2 separate regions of the Homo sapiens genome follow, and region 2 is linked to region 1. The links come from fine-mapping of genetic effects on gene expression. Tissue or cell type: sun-exposed skin. Region 1 holds a variant in brackets; the other region holds the start of a gene. All regions are shown on one strand. Distances are from middle to middle.

The links. PIP is the estimated chance that this variant, and not a neighbour inherited with it, causes the effect.
Region 2: it holds the start of ATP6V0B, and the variant in region 1 is fine-mapped to the expression of ATP6V0B in sun-exposed skin (GTEx, PIP above 0.99).

What each region holds. Positions count from the first base shown.
Region 1 is chr1:43,641,729-43,644,485 of GRCh38, reverse strand. No RefSeq gene overlaps it. Among named protein-coding and RNA genes, the nearest start is that of KDM4A, 7.0 kb to the left of the region's middle. The variant G/A (reference allele first, on the strand shown) is at 1,250.
Region 2 is chr1:43,973,743-43,976,242 of GRCh38, reverse strand. It overlaps ATP6V0B (ATPase H+ transporting V0 subunit b), which reads right to left and starts at 1,283. Exons shown (of 8, transcript NM_004047.5): 1 at 1,136-1,283; 2 at 395-443; 3 at 70-153. The coding sequence starts at 1,202. LOC124904167 (a long non-coding RNA gene) reads left to right here and starts at 1,378. Exons shown (of 2, transcript XR_007066053.1): 1 at 1,378-1,800; 2 at 2,356-2,500. RefSeq lists silencers at 745-794, 1,195-1,244 and enhancers at 464-1,296, 1,495-1,544, 1,595-1,714, 1,297-2,130.

The DNA of each region.
Region 1 (2,757 bases):
CATGACATAAGTAATCATAATGGCAATATTATTCGCTTAAAAAGTTAACTACACCTAGGCCAGGTGACGTGGCTCACGCCTGTAATCCCAGCACTTTGGGAGGCCGAGGTGGGTGGATCACGAGGTCAGGAGATCGAGACCATCCTGGCTAACACAGTGAAACCCCGTCTCTACTAAAAATACAAAAAATTAGCCGGGCGTGGTGGTGGGCGCCTGTAGTCCCAGCGACTCAGGTGGCTGATGCAGGAGAATGGCATGAACCTGGGAGGTGGAGCTTGCAGTGAGCTGAGATTGCGCTACTGCATTCCAGCCTGGGTGACGAAGCGAGACTCCGTCCCCCCAAAAAAAAAAGTTAACTACAGCTGGGTGCAGTGGCTCACTGCTGTAATCTCAGCACTTTGGGAGGCTGAGGCCAGTGGATCACCTGAGGTCAGGAGTTAGAGACCAGCATGGCCAACATGGTGAAACCCTGCCTCTACTAAAAATGCAATAATTAGCTGGGCATGGTGGCAGGCGCCTGTAATCCCAGCTACTCGGGAGGCTGAGGCAGGAGAATTGCTTGAACCCAGGAAGTGGAGGTTGCAGTGAGCCGAGATCGTGCCGTTGCACTCCATCCTGGGTGACGAGCAAAATTCAGTCTCAAAAAAAAAAACAAAAAACAAAAAACAAACAAACAAAACAAAGTTAACTACATTTATTGAGCTGTTATATTTCAAACACTGTGCTAAATGCTTTATATGCACAAAAATTGTTTACATTTAGATATATGCTATCATTAACAATGTTCTTTTTAATAATATAATTTAATGATTTTTAAATAAATTTACAAACGCATGCAACTATCACCCAATCCAGTTTTGGAACATTTCCATCACCTCAATAAAATCTACCACCTCAAAAAGATTACCCGTGCCCAGTTATAATCAGTCTCCATTCCCACCCCCAGCCCCAGGCAATTATTAATCTATTTTCTGTCTATATAGATTTGCCTTTTCTGGACATTTCATATAAATAGAACCATAGACTATGTGGTCTTTTGTGTCTGGCTTCTTTCACTGAGCATAATTTTTTTGAGAGTCACCCATGTTGTAGCATGCATCAGTATTTCCCTCCTTTCTATTATTGAATAGTATTCCACTGTAGTGTTGATTGATGTTTGGGTTGCTTCCACTTTTTGGCTATTAGGAATAGTGCTGCTATGAACATTTACATGCTAGCCTTTGTGTAAATGTCTGTTTACATTTCTCTT[G/A]GGTAGATAACAAGGAGTGGAATAATTGCTAGGTTGTATAGTAAATTTGTGTTTATCTTTTTAAGAAACTGCCAAACTATTTTCTAAAGTAGCTGTACCATTTTACATTCCCATCAACAATACATGAGGAGTCCCATTTCTCCATATTCTTGCCAGCATTTGGTACTGTCTATCTTTCTGATTATAACCATTCTAGTGGGTGCCAAGTAGTATTTCACTGTGGTTTTAATTAGCATTTCCCTAATGACTAATGATGTTGGGCATCTTTTTATGTGCTTATTAACCATTCATATATCCTCTTTGGTGAAATGTCTATTCAAACCTTTTGTCAATGTATTAATTGGGTTGTTTGTCTTCTTATTATTGAGTTGTAAAAGTTATTTATGTATTTGGATACAGATCCTTTATCAGATGTAGGCTTTAAAAATATTTTCTCTCCTTCTGTGGCTTGCCTTTTCATTTTCTTTAGTGTCTTTTGAAGCACAAGAGTTTTCGTTTTGATGAAGTTCAATTTATCAGTTTATTGTATGAATTGTGGTTTTGGTGCATTGACATTAACATTTACATAGTTCTGCTCTGCCCCTAAAATATGTCCAGAATTCAACACTTCCCTTCACCTCCACTCCATCACCCTGCTCCAAGCCATCCTTAGCCTGAATAGGATAATTGCCACAGCCTGCTAATGTCTCTGTATCTCTGCCCTTGCCCCCTGCAGTCTCCTCAACACAGCAGACTGATTCTTTTTAATTTTTTAAAAAATTATTTTCTACGCTGGGCATGGTGGCTCGAGCCTGTAATCCTAGCACTTTGGGAGGCCGAGGCAGGTGGATTGCTTGAGGTCAGGATTTCAAGACCAGCCTGGCCAACATCTACTAGAAATACAAAAATTAGCCAGGTGTGGTGGCATGGGCCTGTAATCCCAGCTACTCAGGAGGCTGAGGCAGGAGAATCGCTTGAGCCTGGGAGGTGGAGGTTGCAGTGAGCTGAGATCTCGCCACTGCATTCCAGCCTGGGGAATGGAGTGACACTCCATCTCAAAAAACAAAAACAAACACAAAAACAAACAACAAAAAACGGGTTTTCTAATTTTTTTTTCAAGTGATTCTCCTGCCTCAGCCTCCCGAGTAGCTAGGATTACAGGCGCCCACCACCACACCCGGCTAATTTTTTGTATTTTTAGCAGAGACGGAGTTTCATCATGTTGGCCAGGCTGGTAGTGAACTCCTGACCTCAGGTGATTCACCCGCCTCGGCCTCCCAAAGTGCTGGGATTACAGACATGAGCCACTCCGCTCAGCCTAGAGTGATTCTTTTTTTTTTTTTTTTTAAGACGGAGTCTCACTCTGTCGCCAGGCTGGAGTGCAGTGGTGTGGTCTTGGCTCAATGCAACCTCTGCCTCCTGGGTTCAAATGATTCTCTTGCCTCAGCCTCCCGAGTAGCTGGGACTACAGGCGCGTGCCACCATGCCCAGCTAATTTTTGCATTTTTAGTAGAGACGGGGTTTCACCA
Region 2 (2,500 bases), 330 kb before region 1:
CTAAGACCCCAGTGACACCACCTGCCATGACTCAGCCCCTGCCCCCAGTCCCACCACCCCAATACTCACCAGGCTGCCCCAACCACAGACAGGGAGATAGCTAGGCCAATGCCCAGGTTGGACCACATGAAGGGCGAAGTCTCCGTCAGGAACCTGTTGTGGAAGCAGAGAAGAAAGCAGTTCAGCTCTAGCAGGGAAGCGGAGCACAAAATCTTAACCCCTCAAACCCCCTTCAACCCCACCACCAGTTCTACAGGCAACAACTGACCGCGTATTTCCCAAAGGTCCATGTCCCAGGCAGGCAGTGGTGTGGGGGAGGGACTCAGACCAGAGAAAAGAAGAGAGGCTGCAGGGAAGAAGCTTCAAGGGGAATCCTCCCCCTGCCCTCCCTTACCATGCCACATCAAAGCGGAAGCCCAAATCAAAAATGGTGTAGCAGACTCCTGCAGCAGTGAGGGAGAAAAAGGGGGTTACGGGCTGCTCGGTAGAGAGAAGTTCTTCAACCTAAAGTAGCTGCCGAGCTGAAGGGCCACCTCCCTGAAGGGGCGTCCTCAGGCTGCCCCCAGGTGACAGTACAGCTGTGTAGACAGATTCCTCTGCTTAGGCCTCCATTTTCTGCCATTCCCTCGCTAAAACCACCTCCCAGACCAAGCACCTGCGCAGGCAGGGTCGCCACCCGCAAGCCCGAATCCGAGGCGGGACCGAGGGAGCAAGCGCTCCAGCCAGATCCCGCCGGCCCAGTCCGTTCCGCTGTTTACCCAACAAGCTGTGGGTGGGGGAGGGCAAAGCGACTGGGAAAAGAGGAACCGGAGCAGCCGGCTTGTGACCGAGCGGGCCGGTCAGGAGCAAGAAAGGGGGGACAGCAGTGAGACGTGGGAGCGAGGGGAGACAGCGATAGTGGCAGGACGGGGGAGTGCTGCCCTCGCGGCCCCTACCCGCCCGCACCCCTCCTCAAGCAGCTGGAAATCCGGGTCTCCTTTGTCGGAGTCAGAGGCCCTCGCAGGCGCAAGTCCCCAGAGCCTCGGGTGCAGAGCGCGCGGGGGGCCAGTATTCCCCGCAGGCCACTTCCCCGCCGAGTTCCGACCCGGCCAGCTCGGCCGCGATGCTGCTCCCGCCCGCCAGGACCCGGCCTCACCCACGGCCAGCGCGCAGGCCCAGAAGGCCACGAAGACCCCGGAGTAGAGCAGTGCTAGCCCCGTCATGGCGGCGACGGCGGCGGGGGTCGGAACGGCGGGGCCGGAGCTACAAACGCGTCCCAGCGTCCACCGTCCGTCCCGCAGTCTGTCCGCCCGCCCCGCAGCGTCACCTAACTCGCCCACGTGATGCGCCGGTACCACGTGACCCCACGCCGGTTCCCCGCGCAGCGCCGCCGCCCGTCTAGAGCAAGGCGACGCTGGAACCGCAGGCGCTGGGGATTGTGGTAGTTGTAGTCACGCGTCTCGGCGGAGGCTTGGGCGCCCTCCTCTCTAGGAACTTCGACATCTGGCCGGTCCTTCTCGAGTCTCTCCACCTCGCCCTGCCAGCCCTGTTTTATTCCCGAGCCTGCTCGCGGGCCCCTAAGGCGTCCTCTCTGGCAGCCGTGCGTCCTAGCCTGTGGCGGGTGGCGCCGCGCGTGCCCTCTGCCTCACCTTGCTCACGGCGTCTCTCCGCCCCAGTGCGCCTGTTGGCGCTCGCTCCGCTGCCTGGCTAACACCTGCTGTCCTCCGAAATCGTCCTTCCGGCAAGCCTTCCCTAACCCAGTGGCAGGGAAGCGCGTTTGCTGGGCTCCCGCGATGTCCTGGTGATGCTTATTAAGCTTCAGTAAGATGTCACTACCCTGTCGAAATGCCCTGATGGCTCCCATTTCATTCAGGAGAAAAGCCAAAGTTCTCACAATAGCCTGCTAGGCTCCCCACGCCCCTCAGCTGACTTCACCTTCTAATATTCCCCCACTAACTCCCTCCTCTGGCTGCACTGCCCTCCTTGCTATTTCTTTGAACGTGCCAACCATACCGCGACCTCACTGCCCTTGCACTTGCTCTCTCTGCTTCTCCTAACTATACATGCGGCTCATCCTGTAACTTCCTTTCAGTTTTTGCTCACCTTCTTGAAAAGGCCTTCTCTGACCATTCTGTTTAATATTCCACCCCACTTAAACGCTCCTCTGCTTCCCAGCTTTACATTTCTCACGGTACTTACTGATCACCATTTGGCATACTAAGTATTTTATTTGTCCAACTCCCCTGGAAGAGTGGAAGCACCATGGCTTTTGTGTCGCTCACTGCTGTATTTCCAGTACCTGGCACAGAGTGTGTCCTCAGTACATATTTGTAGAACACATGACTGATGCCCACTTTGTCTGGGTTACCTTGTTAGCTTACAGCTCTGCCTCCACCATTAGACTAGGCATTCCCTGAGGGCAGGGACCACATCTCCTTTGTTCACCTTCAATACCCTCGACAATGCCACTGTGACCAGATTCTCAACAAATGTGGGGAAGAAGAGGCGAGTCTTTTCATTT